Regions from separate parts of the Homo sapiens genome. Here region 1 is linked to region 2. A link means that fine-mapping ties the variant in region 2 to the expression of a gene that starts in the linked region. Tissue or cell type: testis. Region 2 holds a variant in brackets; the other region holds the start of a gene. All regions are shown on one strand. Distances are from middle to middle. Region 1 holds the start of PDHA2 (pyruvate dehydrogenase E1 subunit alpha 2). Region 2 has its middle 53 kb from the start of PDHA2.

The links. PIP is the estimated chance that this variant, and not a neighbour inherited with it, causes the effect.
Region 1: PDHA2 starts here. The variant in region 2 is fine-mapped to the expression of PDHA2 in testis (GTEx, PIP 0.98).

What each region holds. Positions count from the first base shown.
Region 1 is chr4:95,835,066-95,846,442 of GRCh38, forward strand. PDHA2 (pyruvate dehydrogenase E1 subunit alpha 2) reads left to right here and starts at 5,028. Exons shown (of 1, transcript NM_005390.5): 1 at 5,028-6,399. The coding sequence starts at 5,086. The coding sequence ends at 6,252. RefSeq lists enhancers at 3,087-3,689, 4,545-5,046, 5,047-5,546.
Region 2 is chr4:95,887,478-95,898,854 of GRCh38, forward strand. No RefSeq gene overlaps it. Among named protein-coding and RNA genes, the nearest start is that of PDHA2, 53 kb to the left of the region's middle. The variant T/C (reference allele first, on the strand shown) is at 6,114.

The sequences.
Region 1 (11,377 bases), 52 kb before region 2:
TAACCATTGCCTGGAATGTAATACATTAGTTTTATTGCATCTATAACAGCTGCTTATGTGTCTCTCCCTCTGTCTTTCAATGATGAGTTGTCCTTTTCTCTAGGCAGTGCCAGGAAATCTGGAAGAGCTCACAACACCTCTATATAAACTGGATTAAATAGAGGAAAATTTAATTGTATGTTATTATTGTACTTCTACTACTTAATACAGAAAGGGGATATATAAAAGAAAGGCACTTCATGCATACATGATGAATAAACGAAGAATAAATATTTTACTTTTTTAAATTAGCTTTGTATTTGCCTAATTCCTTGGCCTCAGTTTCCTCTTCCAGAAATTGGGAATGAGACACTAAACCATATGAGGGTCAAATGAGCAAACTGTATTTCCTGGAGATACAAACTTCCTTAACTTTGTATCTCTAGGAAAGAGATGCAAGTCTATTCTATCACATACCTGGGAAATATTTATGATGTTTTATATCTCAAATTAATGCATGTAATAATCGAAAAATTCATTCTCATTATTAAAAAAAATTATTTGCCAAGAAAAATGTGCTTATATGTCTGTACATATTCACAGGTATCTCCTATGAATCTATTTGGACAGAATCTATACAGGTCTAAGTTTACGATGTAATAGATAACACTGTGCCCTAGCTTAGATGTAAGACAGGGCAAAGAAAACTGAAGATGTGGTCAACAGTAGGTTCTTAAAGTGGGGTGCATGATTAGCAATCTTCCTCAAAGTCTGTTTCTCTCAAGATTTGTGTTTGTCAAATGTGCTGCTCAAACTTCCTTCTAGGGGGCAGCAGTGCCCTGGATTTTTGCCAATATTCCTTCCTCTCTCTTTAAACATCCGTCAGTGACTTAGGTCTTCTTCAAAGAGGCAAAGTCAAAGGAAATAGTCGTGGTAATTTTGTTATTACATGGGCATACTGATATTAGAAACAGTTAATATTCCACCAAAAGTCATTAGAAGGGTTGTGGGAGGGCATATATAAAGAAAACGTAATAACATGGTACAGTTAAGAGGAAACTAATATATTAAAACGACTGCACAGAGGAGAGAAGCCCTCATTGCAATATTGAATATATAGCATTCATTTTTACTAGCATATTTTGTGTATACTTTATTGCTAGTATAATAAAATCAAGGTTACTAGGGGTAAATGTATGTTTATTTGCAGAATAAAAATTTGAGACATGGGGTTTTAAGTATGTGAGAATTAAAATCTGCTAAGTACAAGATTTGCCCAAGAAGTGTAAAGATTTTAGGAGAACAGGCAAATAGATTTAACTCTGACTTGGACTTTCTTGAAACTGCTGTGATTTGTCAGGAATGTTTATTGAATTAATGATTTTTCCTTTGAATGGGGATTGTGGTTTTACAAAGCAACTCAAAATATTGAGCAGGAATCAGTTCAAAACTCTTGACTCATGTTCTAGTCCTCTACTGGTTGAGACACCAGACTGTAGTAAATCTTGACAACAGATTTTATACATAAAATTTTACTTCTTATGTCACTTGGCCATATTCAATTACAGCTCTAATTATAGAGAAGTTATTAAAATGTTCGCAAAGTTTTATTTTACAATTTTGCTTCATGATCTCTTTTATCATATATGTTAGACCCTCATCCCAAACTCTTGAAATAGTGGATTTAGCACTAGGAGCATGATGACTCAGATGACTCCGGTCATCTATCAGGAGAAAGATGGTGGTCCATCTGTTACACTAAAAATTAACCCACAATGTCTTCCTTTTTCTCACACCATCATTATCTGGGTAGGATGAGAAGCACTTCTACTTTACCTCTCATTTCTAATTAAGTCTTCTCTTTGAATTAATCTATCCTGGATTTTTATTTTAATCATATTTCAAATATAGTAAGATCATACAAGAAAAAATATTGTTTGCCCAAGCCTCTGAAGTGTTCTGGAATAGCTTTGCTTATTGTAATATTAGAGAGAAACTTTGCTTGATTGTCATCATTTTTCAAAATATATGGTACTGACATTGTGTCTTTTCTCCAACAGAGAAATTCTTCTCAGAGTTATATATATATAACTTGTAATTTTTGCACTAAGTTCTTACTCATCACTCTTAATTGCCAAATCTTAGAGCTATGAAAAAAATACACTGCCACTAATCATCTAATGAGATCTGATATTGCTTATCTAGAAAATATTCACTCTTTAACAGCTTTCTTCACCTAACATTTGGTGAAAAAGTGCAATAATTACTGAAGAAATGTAAATATCCTTCAAACATTCTCACTGTTCTTTTTCACATTTCCTTGTCTATTATTTAAAAAATATGTGTTATTGATGCCATGGGAGTGACACTTTTAAGATAAATTCAGAAATACCCCTGTAGGATCAACCATCAGACATGAAATGTGAAATGCTGTCACACTGGCATGAATGACTGCTACTATAATCACTGGCTCTTCTTTTATAGGGGTTTTTATTAATTAAATGTAAAGTCTGCCATTGGCCTTATAAGAGTGCTCATCTGTTTTCCTTTAATTTCAAGTAGATTAAAAGTGAGATTTGGTGTTAATTAAAAACTTAGAATTTATGGGGTTTCTAATTGCAAATAACATTTCTGTGGTGAGTACGTAGATGACTTCTTAGTTCTGTTTGGTAATCAACATAGTATTGAACAAGGACAGGACAAAAAATAAATCATTTGAAGAAAAGAACACCATCATTGGCTCTATTGTCCGTGAATAGCTTGAATCCTATCTAGCTGGGGGGCATGTAAGAGGAGAAGCTCAACAGCTCAGGATAAACATTTTACCCTGATGTCTGGAAATTTCATTCTTTCTTTGAAAAATGTAGATGGATTTGGAAGGATAGCAATAAAAGTCAAAAAGTCATTATCAAGATTAATCAGTTTAATTGAAATGCTTCAACATTGTTTGATTTCAGATGTCTATTTTTAAGTTGAATTTAGGATATATAGGGTAACTGATGACCAAGAGGTCTATGGGAGTTTCACATTTTATTATTTATTATCTTAACTAGATCCTGTTGAGAAATTTTTTTTTTTAAAGGACATCTTCTGTGGGAACCCGTAGTACAGATATTTTCCAATTAGCATCTTTGTATGTTCTCTTCTGGCATGAGTCGGGTTTAGGCTTGACACACTGGGCTTTTAAGGGGAGCTCTATCTTTGCAGTCCAGGCTACGTGTGACAAGATTAAATTGGCACACTTTACTGTACAGCTCTTGTGTTCCTGGCAGCACTGGCCTGGCTGATACCTCTGAGAGAAGGCTCAGCTGTCACTCACTGACCCATTAACACTACTGTTCTATCCTGCAGTGTCATTTTTCTCATTCTTATGGAGATAATGCTCCCTGGAGATCTCCAATACCTGGAGGAATGAAAGAGAACAGCAGAGACAGGCTAACTATCAAAGAGGGAGCAAACAACACAGCAAGACCATGAATTCCAACAGTTGAATTTTCAATTGAGTGAAAAGATGAGGCCTATTATGATGGCTGGGTTCAGAAGGTGGGGAGACGATCAAGTTTTAAGAGGTATCTTAACTTTTTAACAAGCTATTTTCTCTTTTCTTCCTGAATATTAAAAGAAGTGCCCAAAATAACACCTGCAACTAGATATAGAGAAGGCAGCTGCTTTGAACATGTAATAGGGACATTTGGGTAAGAATTTATCATTTGCAAATAGGCAATGGATATAAAACAGAGCATGCATTAAGGTGAATGGCTTAATATTCTAAATAAAACAGGATCCCTAGTTAGGGTTGGCTTATTGGGGCACAAAATCGCCTTCCTGGTAAAAGCACAAAAAGAGAGAAATGATATGTGATCTTTGTATCCCTTGGTCTAAGGCTTCTCTTCTCTTGTGATTGAACGGTTTCCAGTGGCATAAGCAAACTCTGTTGCTCTCTTGTAGTCCAAACTGTGTATTGTTTGGTGGGTCACTTTATAAGAAGTAACACTTTCTAATGGTTACTACATAAAAAGGCACTATAAGAACATGTTTCTAGATTTCCTGGACTAAGGCTGGTCCAGTTTGATTGATATGAAAGCAAAATAAATAAATAAATAAATAAATACCACCTGAAAGTCTATGGAAACCTGCTGAAGACATTTTTATAGAAAACCAAAAAGAAAAAAAAGAGGAAATAAACAAAAGGAAGAGCAAAAGTGAAGTAGTCAGAAAATAGGGATAAAACTAGGTAAAAACAGAGATTCAGAATTATTAAACAGAGTAAGGAAAAGTGGAATGTCACAAACTACAAACTTTTTACCACAATCTGCACCTCAACCCTCTCTCCCTGCTTCCAATTTTCCCACACCAAGCAAAGTTTATTACTGGGTTTAAAGTGTTATCCTCAGGCCGAGGTTTGTATACATTTTCCCTCCCCACTTCAAGTGTCACAGGTGCTAGACGCCATCAGGATAAATGTGGCATATTATTTGAGAGTACTGACTTTTCTTTAAAAGGGGTTTTTGTTAACGTGCGTGTGCTTGTTTTGTTTTTAAAGTTAATTAAGCTACAAATAATTTACAGCTTTGTTGTTACCTTAAAATACATATGGCACATTATGGAGCAGGATAAATATTCATACCTATTTTAAAGATCAAAAACAAGACATTAAAGAAATATTGGTAGGAAGAAATACCTTTGGACTAACTCTCAGAACTCTCATGTGCCTTAGGGACTGAGTTTGTTCCTTTCTTCTATTTGATACGCTTGTCGGGAAAGCTTGAGATACAGTGCTCCAGGGTTTAACAGGGAAAAGGGACTCAGATTATTGAGGTTCAGCAATGACGGCGATTAGGATGCCCTGTAGTTTGCCCAAGTCCTCCAGAAAAGGAAATCACTTTTAGTCTTCATTTTACAGCTGGCAGGCACTGTACAAATCAGTCAGCTCAGGCTGCGTGGCCCATGTCCCAGTGCTGTGCAGGACCTGCCTCTATCACCCGTGTGCACTGCCCGGATGGTGCCAAGCGCATTGGAGCACCGGAAGGAGACGCGGAGCCGAGGCCAGGCCTTCCGGCGGTCGTTACGGGACGCCGCTGCCATCTACAGCACTCCGTGAAGAATATGCTGGCCGCCTTCATCTCCCGCGTGTTGAGGCGAGTTGCCCAGAAATCAGCTCGCAGAGTGCTGGTGGCATCCCGTAACTCCTCAAATGACGCTACATTTGAAATTAAGAAATGTGATCTTTATCTGTTGGAAGAGGGTCCCCCTGTCACTACAGTGCTCACTAGGGCGGAGGGGCTTAAATACTACAGGATGATGCTGACTGTTCGCCGCATGGAATTGAAGGCAGATCAGCTGTACAAACAGAAATTCATTCGCGGTTTCTGTCACCTGTGCGATGGTCAGGAAGCTTGTTGCGTGGGCCTTGAGGCCGGCATAAACCCCTCGGATCACGTCATTACATCCTATAGGGCTCATGGTGTGTGCTATACTCGGGGACTTTCTGTCCGATCCATTCTCGCAGAGCTGACGGGAAGAAGAGGAGGTTGTGCTAAAGGAAAAGGAGGATCGATGCATATGTATACCAAGAACTTCTATGGGGGCAATGGCATCGTCGGTGCACAGGGCCCCCTGGGCGCTGGCATTGCTCTGGCCTGTAAATATAAAGGAAACGATGAGATCTGTTTGACTTTATATGGGGATGGCGCTGCGAATCAGGGGCAGATAGCCGAAGCTTTCAATATGGCAGCTTTATGGAAATTACCTTGTGTTTTCATCTGTGAGAATAACCTATATGGAATGGGAACATCTACTGAGAGAGCAGCAGCCAGCCCTGATTACTACAAGAGGGGCAATTTTATCCCTGGGCTAAAGGTCGATGGAATGGATGTTCTGTGTGTTCGTGAGGCAACAAAATTTGCAGCTAACTACTGTAGATCTGGAAAGGGGCCCATACTGATGGAGCTGCAAACCTACCGTTATCATGGACACAGTATGAGTGATCCTGGAGTCAGTTATCGTACACGAGAAGAAATTCAGGAAGTAAGAAGTAAGAGGGATCCTATAATAATTCTCCAAGATAGAATGGTAAACAGCAAGCTCGCCACTGTGGAAGAATTAAAGGAAATTGGGGCTGAGGTGAGGAAAGAAATTGATGATGCTGCCCAGTTTGCTACCACTGATCCTGAGCCACATTTGGAAGAATTAGGCCATCACATCTACAGCAGTGATTCATCTTTTGAAGTTCGTGGTGCAAATCCATGGATCAAGTTTAAGTCCGTCAGTTAAAGGGAGGCTACGTGTGAATTTATCATCAGTCTCTCAATGGAATGTTCATGGTCAAATTTAAGAAACTGTGTTCTCAACTCAAGGAGGAATAAAACTCATAAAACAAAAGCCTTGTAAGCATTTATTAAAAGAGATTATTAAAAGAGATTGAAAGACATGCATTCAATAAAAGTGATATTATATTCAATTATACTGTATATTTTTGCATTAAAAGATACTATATAGGTAACAATTTAGTGTGAATATCTTAAAGATTATTTTGAACTTATACAAGTCTAAAATAGGAAAAGGAGATTATTTAACTTCCCAAACTGTTTGTCATAACAGTTCCATTTGATTTAGCTTTATACTATTTTAATGCATTCTCTTCTTTAAAAGAAAGTTGTTTCCTGCTTCCCCTGCCATGGGTTTCTATGTAGAATCACCATCCTGAGGTAAGGAGATTATTTCAAGCTACTCAGGACACCTATGGATATGTAACCATTTACTTGAATTACCTAATAACGAATACAGTTTAGTGTAACAGTGTGCGCATGCGCACACCCACACACGTGGTGCTGAAGTTTGTTAACACTGACCGTTTTTCCAATAATATATGATATTTAACAGGGCAGGGGAGGAAGAACAAGGATTTTTTTTTTTCATATTATTGTATCTTGTTACAATATTTTTAGTCTTTTAACCCTTAAGGAAAAATATAGCAAAAATTAAAATCTAGGGGAAAAACTGCATTCCGCTTTAATCTTTAAGTTAAAGCTACTCTTATTTTGCAGTTCATTTATGCCCTTATATATTCTAAAATTTAATGGGCCATTCTGGTGAATTTCAGACTGAAAAATGAATAAACAGAGATGGTGATTCAAAGAGTTAAGCAGAGGAGGTGACATTAATAAAAAGTTGAAAGTAAAATCTACCTTGCTTCTTACTAGCTGTTAACCATGCGTTACTAATCACTACATGATCAACTATTTAGTATCTTTTAATGCAACAGAACATTCACAGATAACTTTTTCCAAAGGAACACACAACATGTCTTTTCTGCAGTCCAGCACCATGTCAATTATCAAGTCATGATTTGGTGAAAGCAGTTTTACATGGTTATATTCGACTACTTAAAATCCTGCTGAGCTTGGTGTTTGGTGTATGTTATTTTTCTGAGAGCAGAGATGATAATTTGCCTGTGATTTAAGAATAGTAGGTGGAACATACCAAAACAGTCAAAGGTTAACCCTTTTTCTTTACTGTACAGCATCTACTTCTACAAATAGAACCTAGATTCTAAGAAATAAGAAAACCAAAAGCTCAGAGGCCTGGGAGAAGATGAACATATGTACATATATATACAGGCTTAATCTCCGTATCTTCTCCCAAACAAGTTTAAACAGGTAAGATAACCTAACATTCCGAATTCGGAAAGCAAAGATAAACATTGTTTTGCTTATATGTAAGTGATATTACTAGCTAACATGTTTTGATTAGAACACCGCAGTTGTTCAGAGGTGCTTGGACTGGATTCCTACAATTAAAAACAAAAAAGGATTTTTCATACGACATTCAGAATAATAAGTACATCCTTCTAATGATAAAGAATTCTTTTTATTTTTACATACTGATATTTTCACATATTTGCAAGTGGAAGATAAGCTGCTCAATTAAGGCTATTTTACATATGCAATATACAGAAATAATTTTTAAAGTTTTTCAATAGATTCTTTTGATGACAGCAAAAATTAAGATACAAATAATTGATTAGAAATGAAACCATCCCTAAATCAAGATACATAGATATTGTACTTCACTTCAGGGAAATAATCCAAATTTTGTTGTTAGAGGAATAAAGCATGTTTGTCACAACACAATATATGTTATCAAATTCCATTAAAGAAGGAGGTTTTCAATGTTTTCTATATTAAACAATGTTCAGATTTCTTGCATACATTGAGTAATTATAATCATATCACTGGTTACGCACAATTCTGTAATCATGCAAAACAAAAAAAAGCAACCGAAAAATTCAAACATGTTGTTTTCAATTAGGTCAAGATTTATTGCTTGACTAATGATAGCAATAATTTATCAAGCTGTAAACAAGAGAGGTGTAGAAATCTAGCAATTGGATTCTATTTCTTGTCTATAGTACTGGGTTACTCAATCTGTTTTATCCTCACGTTAAAATACCTACTAAGTTATGATAGTCATAATAAGAATTTCACTGCTGCAGCAAAGCTAGACTATCTGCGAAAAGGAAGAGTTCCTAATTTCTTAATCTTTATGATATGTTATAATGATAAAATATCATGTAGTGTGTGTGGAATGGAATAAGAAAGAAAGGAGCTTAAAGATTTATAAAGGGTATACTAGATTAGAATTACATTTTTTAAAAAAAAAATGGACATGTCTTCCCATCTAGTGTACAAAAACCAGAGCATATGGTTACAAAAATTTAACTTGAAATTTTGTAAGAGCTATGTTTTAAAAATTGAAACATAATTTTATAATTGAAATATAATTTTTACATATGCAATATACAGAAATAATTTTTAAAGTTTCACCCTTCTAAAAGTGCACAAGTCAATGATTTTAGTACATACACAAGACTATGCAATCACCACTGTCTAATTCTAGAATATTTTTATAATTCCCATTTTCAGTCAATCCTATTTCCCCTGGCAACTACTAATCTACTTTTTGTCTCTAGATTTGCCTATTCTGGACATTTCATATAAGCCACACAATATGTTGGTCCTATATGACTGGCTGCTATCCCTTAGCTTAATGTTTTCATGTTTCGTCCATGCTGTAGCATGTATCAGTACTTTAGTCTTTTTATGGCTGAATAACATTTCCATTTTATTTATCCACAAGTTATTGAAGATTTAGAATTTTTTTTCTACTTTTTGACTATTATGAATAAAGTGTTGCTGAGAAAAAATTCAATCACAAAGACAATAACAATTTTCAATGTATTGGCTAATGCAAACAATATCCCTTACGATGCAATCCCTTTTGATTATAAACAAATAATGATGAAGAAAAGTGTTAAAATACTTTAAGCCTGATATTTATCAACTTACATAATCTATTGCTCCAGTTGGATTTAGAATTACAATTTTAGATTTGCATAAAATTTGAGAACAGTATGCAGATGTACCACATGCCCTGCACCCAATTTCCCTTTTATTAACATTTTATATTAGTTTGTGGCAAGGAAAGAGTAAATTCAGCAGGCTTGAGTTACTCAAAGCCTGCACATTTAAGGAAAGACCTCTTTTCACACTCCTGGGAGATAATCTCTGAACACCTTGGAATATTCTACCTGATATGAATGTTTTTGTGAGCCTCAGGCCTTGGGCCATACTATGCCAATATGACCAGATTAGCTTATCTTAATGATGTGTCCCTCTTTTACTCCATTGAGAAGATATACCTGGAAACTTCTGCCTGCTTTCTCTTGAACTTCTCTTCATGTGTCTTTTTCCTTTCCTAATTTTAATTTGTATCCTTTCACTGTAATAAACCATAAGAAAAAACAATCCAGTTTTTTTAATTATACAGAATAAGAAGCTATATATAAAAGAGGAGGTCCAGAGATATTAAGTGGCTAATTCAGGTTCACATAGTAAGTGATAGTGATAGCTATTGTTATCAGTCCATTCTCATGCTGCTATAAGGACATACCCGAGACTGGGTAATTTATAAAGGAAAGTTTAGTTGACTCAGAGTTCAGCATGGCTGAGGAGGCCTTGGGAAACTTAACAATCATGGCGGAAGGGGAAGCAAACACATCCTTCTTCACAAGGTGGCAAGAAAAAGAATGGGAGCAGAGTGAAGGGGGAAGCCCCTTATAAAACCATCAGATCTCCTGAGAACTTACTTACTATCATGAGAATAGCATGGGGGAAGCCACCCCCATGATTCAATTACTTTCCACCAGGTCCATCCCATGACATATGGGGATTATGGGAACTACTACTGAAGATGAGATTTGGGTGGGGACACAGCCAAACCATATCAGCTACTAATCATAGCCACTATTCTATTTTACTAGACTGCTTTTGTGTACAAGACACTATGCTTAGTATTTTGTATACATTGTCCCACTTGATGTTTACAATATCCACATAATATAGGCATTATAATCTACATTTTACGAAAGAGGAAATTGAGGCACAAGTAAGTTGCTTAAGATTTTGCAGTTTACAAATGGAGGATGCAGGATTAAAAGCCAGGCAACAAAATCCATATTTTGAAAATTACTTTTTTGTACTGCTTTGTACAGTAATAACCAACCACAAAATCTGTTCTAAAAAGGTTCATTAATAAATGAATGAATACAATTAAACTAGAACTAAGGGATTTTATCAATTACTATGAACTGAGTCTAGATTGCAGGCCTAGAGTAGAAACACATAGACCAAGATTGGGAGGAAAACAGACACAGGATATAGGAAGTAAGGCAGAGTAAATATAGCCACAAAAGTTGTGATATTCATCCCATTAAGAAATTGGATATATGTCCCTTCCTCTTGAATCTGAGTGAGCTTATGCCACTCTGAACAACAGACACCAGCAGAAATGACACTGAAATGCAGTTTCAGGGCCCAGGATATGAGAAACAGGCAGCTTTTGCTTCATATCTCTTGGGAACATTCTCTCTAGGAGCTGTGATTCTCCACTTTAGAAGTTCAAATACACTGAGAACCTCTTGCTAGCGAGGGCATGAGCAGACACTCTGATCACCAGTCCTGGCTGATCTCTGCCTTGCAGCCAAAGCTACAAAGGCAACAGACTCTCAGTGAGGCTATCCTAGACCTTCCAGACAGCCCATCTACTAGCTGAAAGCTAACGAGGGATGTCTGGCAAAACAGTACAATCGAAACCAAACTCTCCCCAGATTCCCAATGTACAAAATCACAAGGAAAAATAAAAATGGTTGTTTTTAATATTCTAATTTTTGAAGTACTTTGTAGCGATAGATAGCCAGAATAAAAAGGGAGTTTTGACTCAGCAGAAATTAGAATTACATTGCTTATTCAAAGCCAGGGATCTCGGGAGAATAGGTGAAGTTTAGTAAACCAAGTCAGAATCAGAAAGCCCAAAGGATATTCCACTGCATAGGTTCATA
Region 2 (11,377 bases):
TGCCAATTTTGAATCATTATCACTACCACTCTTTTTCCCAATTTACCACAGTAAGTATTTGGTCCAGAATCTCTTCATCATTGACTCTGATGTATTTACTCTGTCAAGCAGATTTTGTCCTTTTTTTCCTTATGGTATCTAGTACTAAAAGAATTTTATTCCATACATTTTCTGAGAAAATCTAATTTGCTTTTCCAATTGCTTAGAATTAGTCTATTGGCAGACATGGAGGCCCTTAAGGAGCCATTTGCTCTCTCAGTTTAGTGTGCAGAACAAATTAGTACTTCCCAAAATAATACCAATTAAGCTAACGTTAAAAAGTTAGTATCTATGTTAATCTCAGGAGACAAGTTATCGCATCCCTCCAAAAGGGCTGCCACTCAAGGGCAATGCTTTTCAGATTGCATAGTATGCTACTTTTATATTATTCTCCGAAGATCTGCTTTTGCTAGATGCTATCTACCATTACTATTTCTACTGCTGCTGCTGCTGCTGACACACTATTACACTTATATACAGACACCATATTTTTTCAATCCACAAATTTTAGCATTCATTTTGACAATTGTACTGGGTAGGAGTTCAAAAGACCTGAATTCTTTTTCTAATTCTTTTAAAACTACTGTGTGACATTAGACAATCATTTTAATATTCTATCAGTCATTTCCTCATTTGAAAAATTAGCACACTGGACTAAATCAACTGGTGCGCTAATGCTCTTGGACCAATTTTGGTAAATAGTGTTTTATTGCAACATAGCCATGTTCCTTCATGTATGTATGTGTATAACTACTTTCATACTGCAACACCAGAGTTGAATATTTGCATCACAGACCCTATGACCTGTAAGCCTAAATATTTATTATGTGTACCTTTCAGAGAAAGTTTTTCAATCCTGGATCAAATGATCAAAGTTTTTTTTCCAGTTGTACACATTTATCACTCAAGAAGATTCTGGTGGAAAAAAAATCTTAGCCTGCCTACCAAATATGAAAATAGTTTTAAATTATTTAATTTTCTCTTGTGAAACTTCTCCAAATTACAAAGTCATCCCAGTTCATTTAAATACAGAGTTATCACAAGTGATAGTCCTATTGAGTGAAGACAGAGTGATAAACCCAATGGTAGTCATATTTTTTAGCAGTTTGCCCATTTTTCTAATACTTCAATATTGTCGTCTCAATTATAAGAGATGTAGCTTAATCCTAAATCCATCTACATTTATTGGGAGATTTTTATTCAAAGTCCATTTTGAAAAACAGTCACATTTCTCAAATTGTCAGAAATCAAATGGAAGAAAAAATATAAAGTGAAAATATAAATGACAAATTCCTAAATTTATAGGAAAAAAATGTAGATGTATATAGAGATTGGAAGTATATGTATGTTTACACTAATTGGTAGAAGATATTAACAGTGAAGGCCCTAGTTTTATTATACATCAGGGAGGATGATTGGCATTCATATTGGATTGATGCCTAATGTGTTTTCTTTTTCTGTGACTTTCAAAGCACTAAAATGAAAATATGTCAATTATGTGGCCACTGGGAAGTGATGAACCGTCAATTTTCAAATTAGTAAAAGATCTTAAAACCTATGATCAGGAACTTAATTGCACATTAGAGGCAAATTGGGAATTACTGCAGCATTGTGAGAAGAGAGTGAAAACATCAATTTATTGTGAAACTTTTTGACTGAAGAATGGAAATAAATTACAGAGCACAACCAAAGTCACACCAGAGAAACCTAGGACAGTTATATAAATGAGATTTTCCTTCTCTCTTACTTCTTACAAGATCTTTATCAGCTGAGCTATCATATGTGTTTATCTTGTTTAATTTTAGTTTATATAAAATATTGTGGTAGAGTTTTGGCAAAAATGGGCACAACTATTCCCTCAATGGTATCCACATCTCTTGCAGTGTGGTTTTGGCGGTGCTGCCATTAAAACGTGGAGTCCATTTCCCTACAACTTAAATCTGGGCTGGCCTTATGACCTGGTTTGGCCAACTGAATTCAATAGAATTGTTTATATACTAGTTTTGAACAGACTTCATGAGACGTTTCTTTCTTCTACTCTTTCAAAGGAAGTCCCAATACCCTTCACATCACAATATTTTAAAAGCCCTATATAGTCTCTGCAGCATTGAAATAGGGTTGGCTTTTGTATTCAGTAGAATGCAGCATCAGAGACAGTTTCTGACCTCTTAAACCAGGTGAGAAGTACATTATGTCTGGACTTCTGGAGTAGTAACATGGGGAAGCCAGCTACCAGTTATAAGGACACACAAGCAGTCTCATGGAGAGAGTTTAACATGGAGAGAAACCTCCTTGTCAGTACCAGCTCGCCAGCCATATGGCTGAACTACCTTGGAGAGCGATCCTCACACCCTAGTCAGGCCTAAAGATGACTGGAGTTGCAGATGACATCTGACTACAGCCTCACAAGAAACCACAAGCCAGTATTGTCCAACTGAGCTGCTCCTGAATTCCAGCTCCACAAACCCTTCAATTGCTATCCTTTGACTGTTTGGTTTTTTTATATGTTATACAACTATTTCTAACAATAAAGGGTAACTGAACAGGGTACGGGGGCTTTAGCTGCATGAGGAACTATGGCCTGTTGGTGGTGGCAGAGGTAGTATGGGCAAGTATGATGCATTTAAATTTCTCTGTCTTAATAATTTGTTTCCCTACAATGAGCAAATTCTGATTCAAAATGTTTGTCCTTTTCTATTCATTCTTCGATTTCATGAGATTGTATTAATTTTATTTGTGTGTGTGTGTGTGTATATGCACGCACACACACACACACACACACTCACTCTTATTGTTTGATGTATCAGCTTTACATATCTTATATCTGGCTTGTTAAAGAGGAGGAGTTTGGCATAACTACATTACCACAAAAATTATTATAATCTTTGAGCTCTCAAATTTTGCTAGTTATACAAATGCTACATTAGATAGATAGATAGGTAGATAGATAGACAGATAGAGGTTGAGAGAGAGAGAGAGAGAAAGAAAAAGACAATGTCTCACTCTGTTGCCTAAGCTGGCCTGCAGTGATGTGATGATAGCTCACTGCAGCCTTGACCTCCTGGTCTCAAGCGATCCTCCTGCCTCAGTCTCCAGAATAGCTGGGACTACAGGCACATACCACCATGCCTGCCCATTTTTAAAAATAATTTTGTAGAGATAAGGGCTTTGCTAAGTTGCCCAGGCTGGTCTCAAACTCCTGGCCTCAAGTGATCCTCCTGCCCTGGCCTCCACTGGGATTATAGGCATAAGCCACTGCACCAAGCCCATCATCACTATTTTTAATCATAGTATTAACTATATTCCTTACATTTATGTTAATTGTCAAATATTTCCTTTCTGCTAGTTTTTAACCATTCATCTCTTAGTCGGCAGAAGTTTGTTCCTTAGGAGATAGTTTCTTCAAGAAGACTCATGGGAACTGAATTGCATGGCCACAACAATTTATTCTTGTCTTTATACTTGAATGGCTGGAAATACAATCATTAAGTCAGATTTTCTTTAAGGATTTTAAAGACATTGCTCTAATACTTTTTAGTATTCAATGTATTATTTGGAAAATCTGAGGTTAGCCTGACTGATTTTATACCAAGACTGAATTTAATATTTTTGATAAGCTGCCAAGGGTTCTTCACTTTTTTTTTTTTTTTAAATCTAACATTTACTAAGTGATTAGCATATGTTATGAAATAACTATACAGGAGGTTTAATCCTTATCCCCATTTTTATAGATAGAAAAACTGAGGCACAGAAAGTTAAGTGAGTTTCCCAGTGCCATACAGGAACTAAGTGACTCAAATTTTTCCAAAATAGTGGCAAGGGTCCCAGAAAGACTGATTCTCCAGTTCTAGGAATATTGAACTTGGGTTTTCTTTCTGTGTTGTCAATCCTGAACAACATGCATGTTGTATCCTTCTTCTCAGCATTCTTTGCTCATTTGCATAGATTCAATTTTTTAACGTTTTTTTTTTCTTTCTGTTGAAGCACTCCCTTTAACACTTTTCATAGTACAGATCTGGTGGTGAGAAATTCTCTGATTTTTGTCTAAAATGTCTACATTTTTCTTTGACTTTTGAAAGCTATTATTGCTGGGTATAGAATGCTAGTTGATTATTTGTTAGCACTCTAAAGATATCACTCCATTGTCTTCTGTTATGGAGTCATTCATATCTTGGTTCTTTCTGTGCATAATGTTATTTTAATCTCTTGTTGCCTTTAAAATTCTTTATTACTGGTATCAGCACATTCAGTTAAAATTTAGCTTGGTGTGGTTTTCTATGTGTTTATCTAGCTTAGAGTTCCTTGAGTTTCTTAGATCCCTTTAGAGCTTTCCTTAAATGACCAAAAATCCTGACCATTATTTTTTTAAGTCTACCTCTCTTTTTGTATTTTCCACTGGAGCTACCATTCTGTGTGTGTTAGACCACTTCAAATTATTGATTATTTATCCATTTCTTTTCAATCTTTGTTCCCTGTGTGAGTCACTTTAAATGATTTTCTGCCCTATATTTAAATTGTCTAATTTTTTCCCTGCGGGATCTAAGTTGCAGTTAATTCTATCCATAATACATTCATTTATTTTTCATCATTACAAGTTCCATCTGGCATTTATTTTTTATCTCAAATTTCTTTTCTTGTTATATTTTCCCTTTCATCCATGAGCATATTGAATGTATTTATAATAGTTTAACATCTTAGTTTGTTATTGATAGTTTCACCATCTCTGTCATTTCTGGATATGTTTCTACTGACAGAGCTTTCTCCTGGTTATGGGTCAATTCTACATCTGTCCTGATGAATAAAGAGCTTTTTATAATTAGTATTCACTGCTCAGAAATAAAGATTATATGCTGGGCTGAGAAAATACATTATTAAGGTGAAAAAATATACTCTATCAAAGCTCTTCAATCCTGTTTCCCATTTCCAGTTATAAAGAAATCACATAAAATCAAACATTTGAGAAAATTCAACAAATTCAAGGTGAATTGAAATCAAAACACAGACAAAATTAACATCCAAGGGAAAGTAACTAAACAGTAAAAAGGAAAAGTAAAATTTTAAACACATGAAATATTTGTACAAAATTTCTTTAGAATAATTCAACTGAAGAAAACAAACTAAAACACAACCAAACACTTTTGATAAGAAACAACTTCCTTTTGAAAGTTAAAAGCAGCTGCATGAAGAACAATTTCTCAATAGATAGGTAAAATAGCAGGGAGTGGGGGATACATGACAGAAGATTAAACAACTAACTTAGAAGATGGAACTGAGCATTTCTTCCAGAACATGAACTAAAAGAACAAAATGATGAAAAACATGGAAAGATGAAGAATAGAGCCAGGAGTTCCAACATTTGTCTAAGATTTTCAACAGTTGTCTACTTGGAAAATACATACAGAAGGAATATAATATAAAATAATAGAGAGAAAAAAATCTCTGAGCTGGAAAAACAACTAAACAAAATTGTTTCAGATTGAGAGACCAGCAGAAATACAAGAAAAGGCAAATATCTTAAATAGACTAATAAAATATTATAAATCCAAGGAAAAGAAAATTCTAAAAACAGAATAAAAATAAAAACAAAACAGATTTGCTAACAACAATTCCAAAGTTTTGTATTCATCTCTCCAGGAATATTTAAGAAATCTGAAGACTCCCCCACTTATTACTATTTTTAGTGTAAACAGGAATTAATCTAGGGACAAAATAGGTAAACAAAATTTTAATTGTGGGATTCCACTCTCCTTTTACCTTATTTTACCTTATTTTTTCCATGGCACTTGGTAGCTTTTTACATACTGTATAATTTACATATTTATGAAGCTTAATGGTTATGTTTCCTTTAAGGAGAATATAAGCTCCATGTAGGTAGGTGTTTTTGTTTACTGATTGCCCCCAAAACTTAGAATAGCGACTGAAACAAAATAGTTTCTCGATATTATTTGCAACATAAATTCTTTATAATAGAAAACATTGGAAGCTACTTTAATGTTCATCAATAAGAAAATGGTTATATGATATACAGTACATACCCAGATCATGTACTGGTTAAATAAAGTGACAAAATTCTG[T/C]ATTATTGAATGCAAAATCACAAGCCCATCTGTAAGCATGTAAATGTCTAAAATAAGTAGTAAAGTATATTCTGAAATACTAAGTATAATTATTACCAGTTGGAATTGAGAAATGGTCAGTCAATAGTCAAGAAGTATTTTACAAAAGCTTATGTACCAGGTAATATTATAGGAATTGGGGTATACCAGTGAACAGGTTCTTACAGCAAAGATGATTACATTTTAGTGAGTAGAAAATAATTTACAAGCATAACTAAGATAATTTCAGAAACTGAGAAGTACTACAAAGAAGATAAAACAGGGTTGTATTGTGGAAATTAACATGGGAGATGTTGACTGTCTTTTATGGGTTGGTTGACTTATTTTATAGTTTGGTCTGATGGTATCTCTGAATGACGAACGTTTAAGCTGAAACCTGGATATGAGAAGGAGGGCAGTATAAAGATCATGAAGATTTAGAGAATAAGCATTGGAAGAAGAAAAAGGAAAGAACAATCAGCAAATGCAAAAGACCTGGGATGCAAATGTACCCAGCATAAGCGAAGGGCGAAGAAAGACCAAGGCATATGGAGCATAGCAAGTGAGGACACGGCTTGAGGGGACAAAATGAAAGAGGTAGGCCAGGGCCTCATTTCAGTCACTTGACTTCAACATTGGAGTGTGTGTTTAATGCGGGGAGCATCAGTGGTGATATGGCTTGGCTGTATCCCCACCCAAATCTCAACTTGTAGTTCCCATAATCCCCAGTGTCATGGAAGGGACAAGGTGGAAATAATTGAATCATAGGGCGATTTCCTCCATCCTTTTCTCCTGGTAGTAAGTTTCATAAGGGGCTTCCCCCTTGGCTGGGCACTCATTTCTCTCTCCTGCCACCATGTGATGAAGGACGTGTTTGTTTTCCTTTCCGCCATGATTGTTAAGTATCCTGAGGCCTCTCTAGACCTGTGGAACTGTGAGTCAATTAAATGTCTTTCCTTCATAAATTATCCAGTCTCGGTCAGTTCTTTATAGCAGTGTAAGAATGGACTAATACAAATGGGATTTCAGAAATTCAGAGTTGTGGTCTGATTCTCACTTATAACTGGTATCATGGTCAGGAGGACCAAGGGTGAGTCCAGACAGAAACCTGTTAGAAGCTGATATAGTAATCCAGGTGAAAGATTGTGGTGACTCTGAGCAGTGTGGTGAGCAGTAGGGCTTTCACTTATCAACATCTATTCTTTTGTGTATCCTTTCTTCCTGTCTTTCTCTGTGCTCTTCCCCTTTTCTCTTTGTCTCCCTCTCTCTCTCTTCGAGCACATAAATTTTGTGCTCCTGGCTACAAAGAAGTCTCTCCAAAATTCATATTATTCTAGATAAAGCTTTAGAGATAATTGTAGTAGTGACACTGATTAGTAGCAGTACTAACTGTGGCAGACGGTTTGAAAATAGAGACTTATTTCATCCCACTTATATGGCTTTGGGGTGTATTTAGTTTCAAGGGGGAGGTGCCATCTTTGCTATATTCATTTACAATCCATCATATGTGCTGCAATGGGAAGGGGCATCCACATTTGTTGTGTTTTCAATGGCTTGTCAAAAAGAGCTGACCTAACAGACATTCAGAGTATTTGGAGAAATACTTGTTATACTCTAAAGTGTTTTCAAATAACGGTTTTCAGACTCAGGGCAGAATTGGAAATGTACTGAAATGTTTAGAAATCTCTCTCCACTATAGGGATTTTGCTATTTGTGTCTCGTAGGAAATAGCTTTCCATAGGCATAAATTTGACAGTAATTATGTCAAAGACAACTAAAAATCTGATTTGCTAACATCCATGAAGGAAGAAGTTCAGGTTACTAAATTAGAAATGTCTACTTTGGATCTGAAAATAATTTCTTATATCCCATAGGAGAAAAGATGTGACTGACCCAGTCTCTGCAAATAGTTAAAGGAAGAGGTATGATTTCACTCCTAATTGGCTTTCTAAGTCAAACACTTTGTTAACACTTGGTATGCATGACATTTTGGAGAGTATAACACCTTGTCAGTTCATATTTGACCCACTTATGTGGGGCCAGTGTGCCAATAAGGGCAAAGCTAAGTCAGGCTGGTACCCATCATAGCACTGCTGTTTATAATGCCAGCAACTTTGAGTTTGGCTTGTTTTGTTAATTTCTCATTGAACTGCATTTCTCCTGTAGAATAGAAAGCATCACTATATGGATTAAGTTACTAGATAGTAGAAATAACTATGCTTATTGGCATAGTAGTATTAACATAGAAGACAGAAAATGAAAATAAAATATCCATGTGAGAAACATAAAAAGTACTACAGTCCTGCAAATATCAGGTGAATATACTGCTTTGTGGTCTACTAGATAAACTAGAAATGAATAGAAAATACTTGTGAGAATTTTAATCCCCAATTCCTATTTATTAATTTTGAGTATGTATAGCATCTGAACATTAGAGGCATTGTGTCTTAATTGCTAAACCAGCTATGATTATGCTTTCTATAGTAGAAAATGTTGATGTTCAACTCAGTAGAAACCATTGGATAATTAAGTTCAGTTCATGTCTGCTATAATGGCATTCTGTATGCTTTAGCATTTGTCACTTTCAAAAGTATCCCAGTTTTGATGACAAACAGCATGGGCACCATAGCATTTAGGACCCTCTTGCTAATTTTGTTCAGGCATCCACCATATCCCCCAGTCAGACCAAATGACTCAAAGGAAGGTGACTATCTCCATCTGCCGGAGTGGGTCCTGATATGTCTAATCCAGAGATTGACTTAGAAACTCATGTTATGCTTTATCTAATCAGCAGTAGGCATTCTCCCAGGGACACTTTAAACTCTTGATCTTTATGGTGTACACATGACCTAAGTTATCTGACTCAAAATAAAAGGAAATTTTTCATAGCTGGGGAAGAGGGAAAGTTGTCTCTCCTTTAGAAATAAACAGAAGGATATGGTCTTTATGTTTGAAGGCAATTATTTTGCACCCATGAGGGTAGGTAACTTAAAGATGAAGCTGAATCAGACAGGCGAATTAAGGAAATCGCTGGAGTCCTACTCATAGCCCACTGGAAGACAATCTACCTTCATACATCCTATTCTTTAAGATAATGAATTCCTTTATTGTTTATGCCAGTTTGAGGCAGTATTTTTAAAAAATAAAATATCCTCATAAATACACTCTTATGAGGTTTTTCTAAAAATAAGATTTTTCAAATAAAATGTTTTACACAGTGTTTGAAATAGTAAACACAGTAATTTATTTTTAACATATCTGGGAGAATGCTGTTACAGTAAATCTAAGTGCAAATACTCAAATTTATAGAATTTTGGACCTTAGATATGCAAAATTCTTTTATAAACTCAAATAAGAGCACTTTCTAGAGAGATGAGATATTTTCTCATATCAGCAACCAAAATCTAGACAAATTAGGTTAGAAGCTAGTAAGTACTTAGGTATTCTTTCTCTGGATATAACAACTTCTCTTCAGCCACATCACTGTTTCTTACTTGAGTGGACACAACTTGTGGTTAAACACCAGCCTGACTCAATGAACTATCATGGACATCTGCGTGAGTATATAAATGTGTACATGTTTCTGGACATCCAGTGTGTAGTCATTCTGCTTCTAGTAATAACATTCAAAAATTGGGAGGAGAGAATCTACTCCTTTCCTTTGTTAACCTATGTGGTTTGAAGAGGGTTCTACCCACTCTTCTAAGGCAAAGCATGTGTTCAAAGTCAAGTTGGAATCAGGGCATCATTTTCTCCCTGGCCAGGAATAAATATTTACCATAGCAGTGTACCTGAGCAGCATGTTAGTTGCTCACTGCATGCAGAGTCCAATTAACAAGATCAAGGTCTGGTGTAAAGAGGTTTATTCTGAAGCTAGCTTAGAGGAAGAGGCCCAAGCATCCTGTCTTTAAATGTAGTGCTTCACTTTTGGAGCAGGAAGCAGGTACTTTTATAAGGCAGGGAAGGAAGCAAGAAAAGGTGGTGGGTCAGCATGCTAGCTTGGTACCAGGGAGTTGAGTTGGCACCTCCATGGGCAGAAATAAGTTGTAAAAGTAGTCAAGTGGGCATGCTTTTGACATGGCTTCCTGGCGATGAGAGTTCCAAGGTTACTCCCTGGAGGGTGAGAGTTCCGAGGTGGGCATCCTTTGGTCTGTAACTTGACCATTAACTCTCAAGGAGAGTTCCATCTTAGAGCACATGGTTAAATATAGTTGCCCTGTAGGGATTGCCTGGTGAAGGGGAGGTAAAGGGTTATATTTGCATTTCTAAAATGCTGAGTAGGAGGCAGGGAACAGGGGAAAGGAGAAAATAGAAAATTTTAAAAAATAATAATAGTAACTCAGCCAGATGCTATGGTGCACACCTATAATCCCAGCAGTTTGGGAGGCTGAGGCAGGCAGATTGCTTGAGCCAAGGAGTTCAAGACCAGCCTGGCCAACATAGTGAGACCCTGTCTCCACTAAGAGAAAAACACAAAAATTAGCCCAGACATGTTGGTATATGCTTGTAGTCCCAGCTGCTCACAAGGCTGAGGTGGGAGGATCATTTGAGCCTGGGAGGCAGAGGCAGCAGTGAGCCAAGATTGCACCACCGCACCACTGCACTCCAGCCTGGGTAACAGAGCAAGACCCTGTCTCAAAAAAAAAAAAAAAAAAAAAAAAAGTAACCCATTCCCTTTTTCCTAGAAAGAATGGGGGTACTTGGTTACATTAAAACCAACCAACCAGAGTTAGAATCACAAGGCTTCTGCTAACACAACTAAATAATAGTGTGTTCTCATTCTGCACTTCAATTTTTGAGAGCTTTTGTGGTTAGACCTGCTACTACTATGAGGAAGTTCATGTTTCATATCACTTATGTAGCTGTCTCAGTCAAGAACTTCTACAGCTGTTTTCCTCGTCTCCACTTCGCTACAAACCCATTTTTCAAAGCTTTGTAACCCTACAATGTAATTACTTCACAGAAAAAGTAAATTTTGTGTTGAGTGTCATATATACTAGTACCAGTCCTGGGATATATCAGTAAATAAGAGACACAGACCCCATCCTTGAGAAGCCCCGATGAAAACTTTGCAAAGCATGTTGCCCAGGTTGCAAGGCAATTTAAAATAGCTTGGCTCCTGAATATCTTCATTTCAAAAATTTCAAGTACTAGTCATTGTATCAATAGTCCCTTCTGTAATGCACTCAAAGAGAGCTACATGCCTATTTTCTTTACTATAAAAAAATTATAAATTTGATAATCAA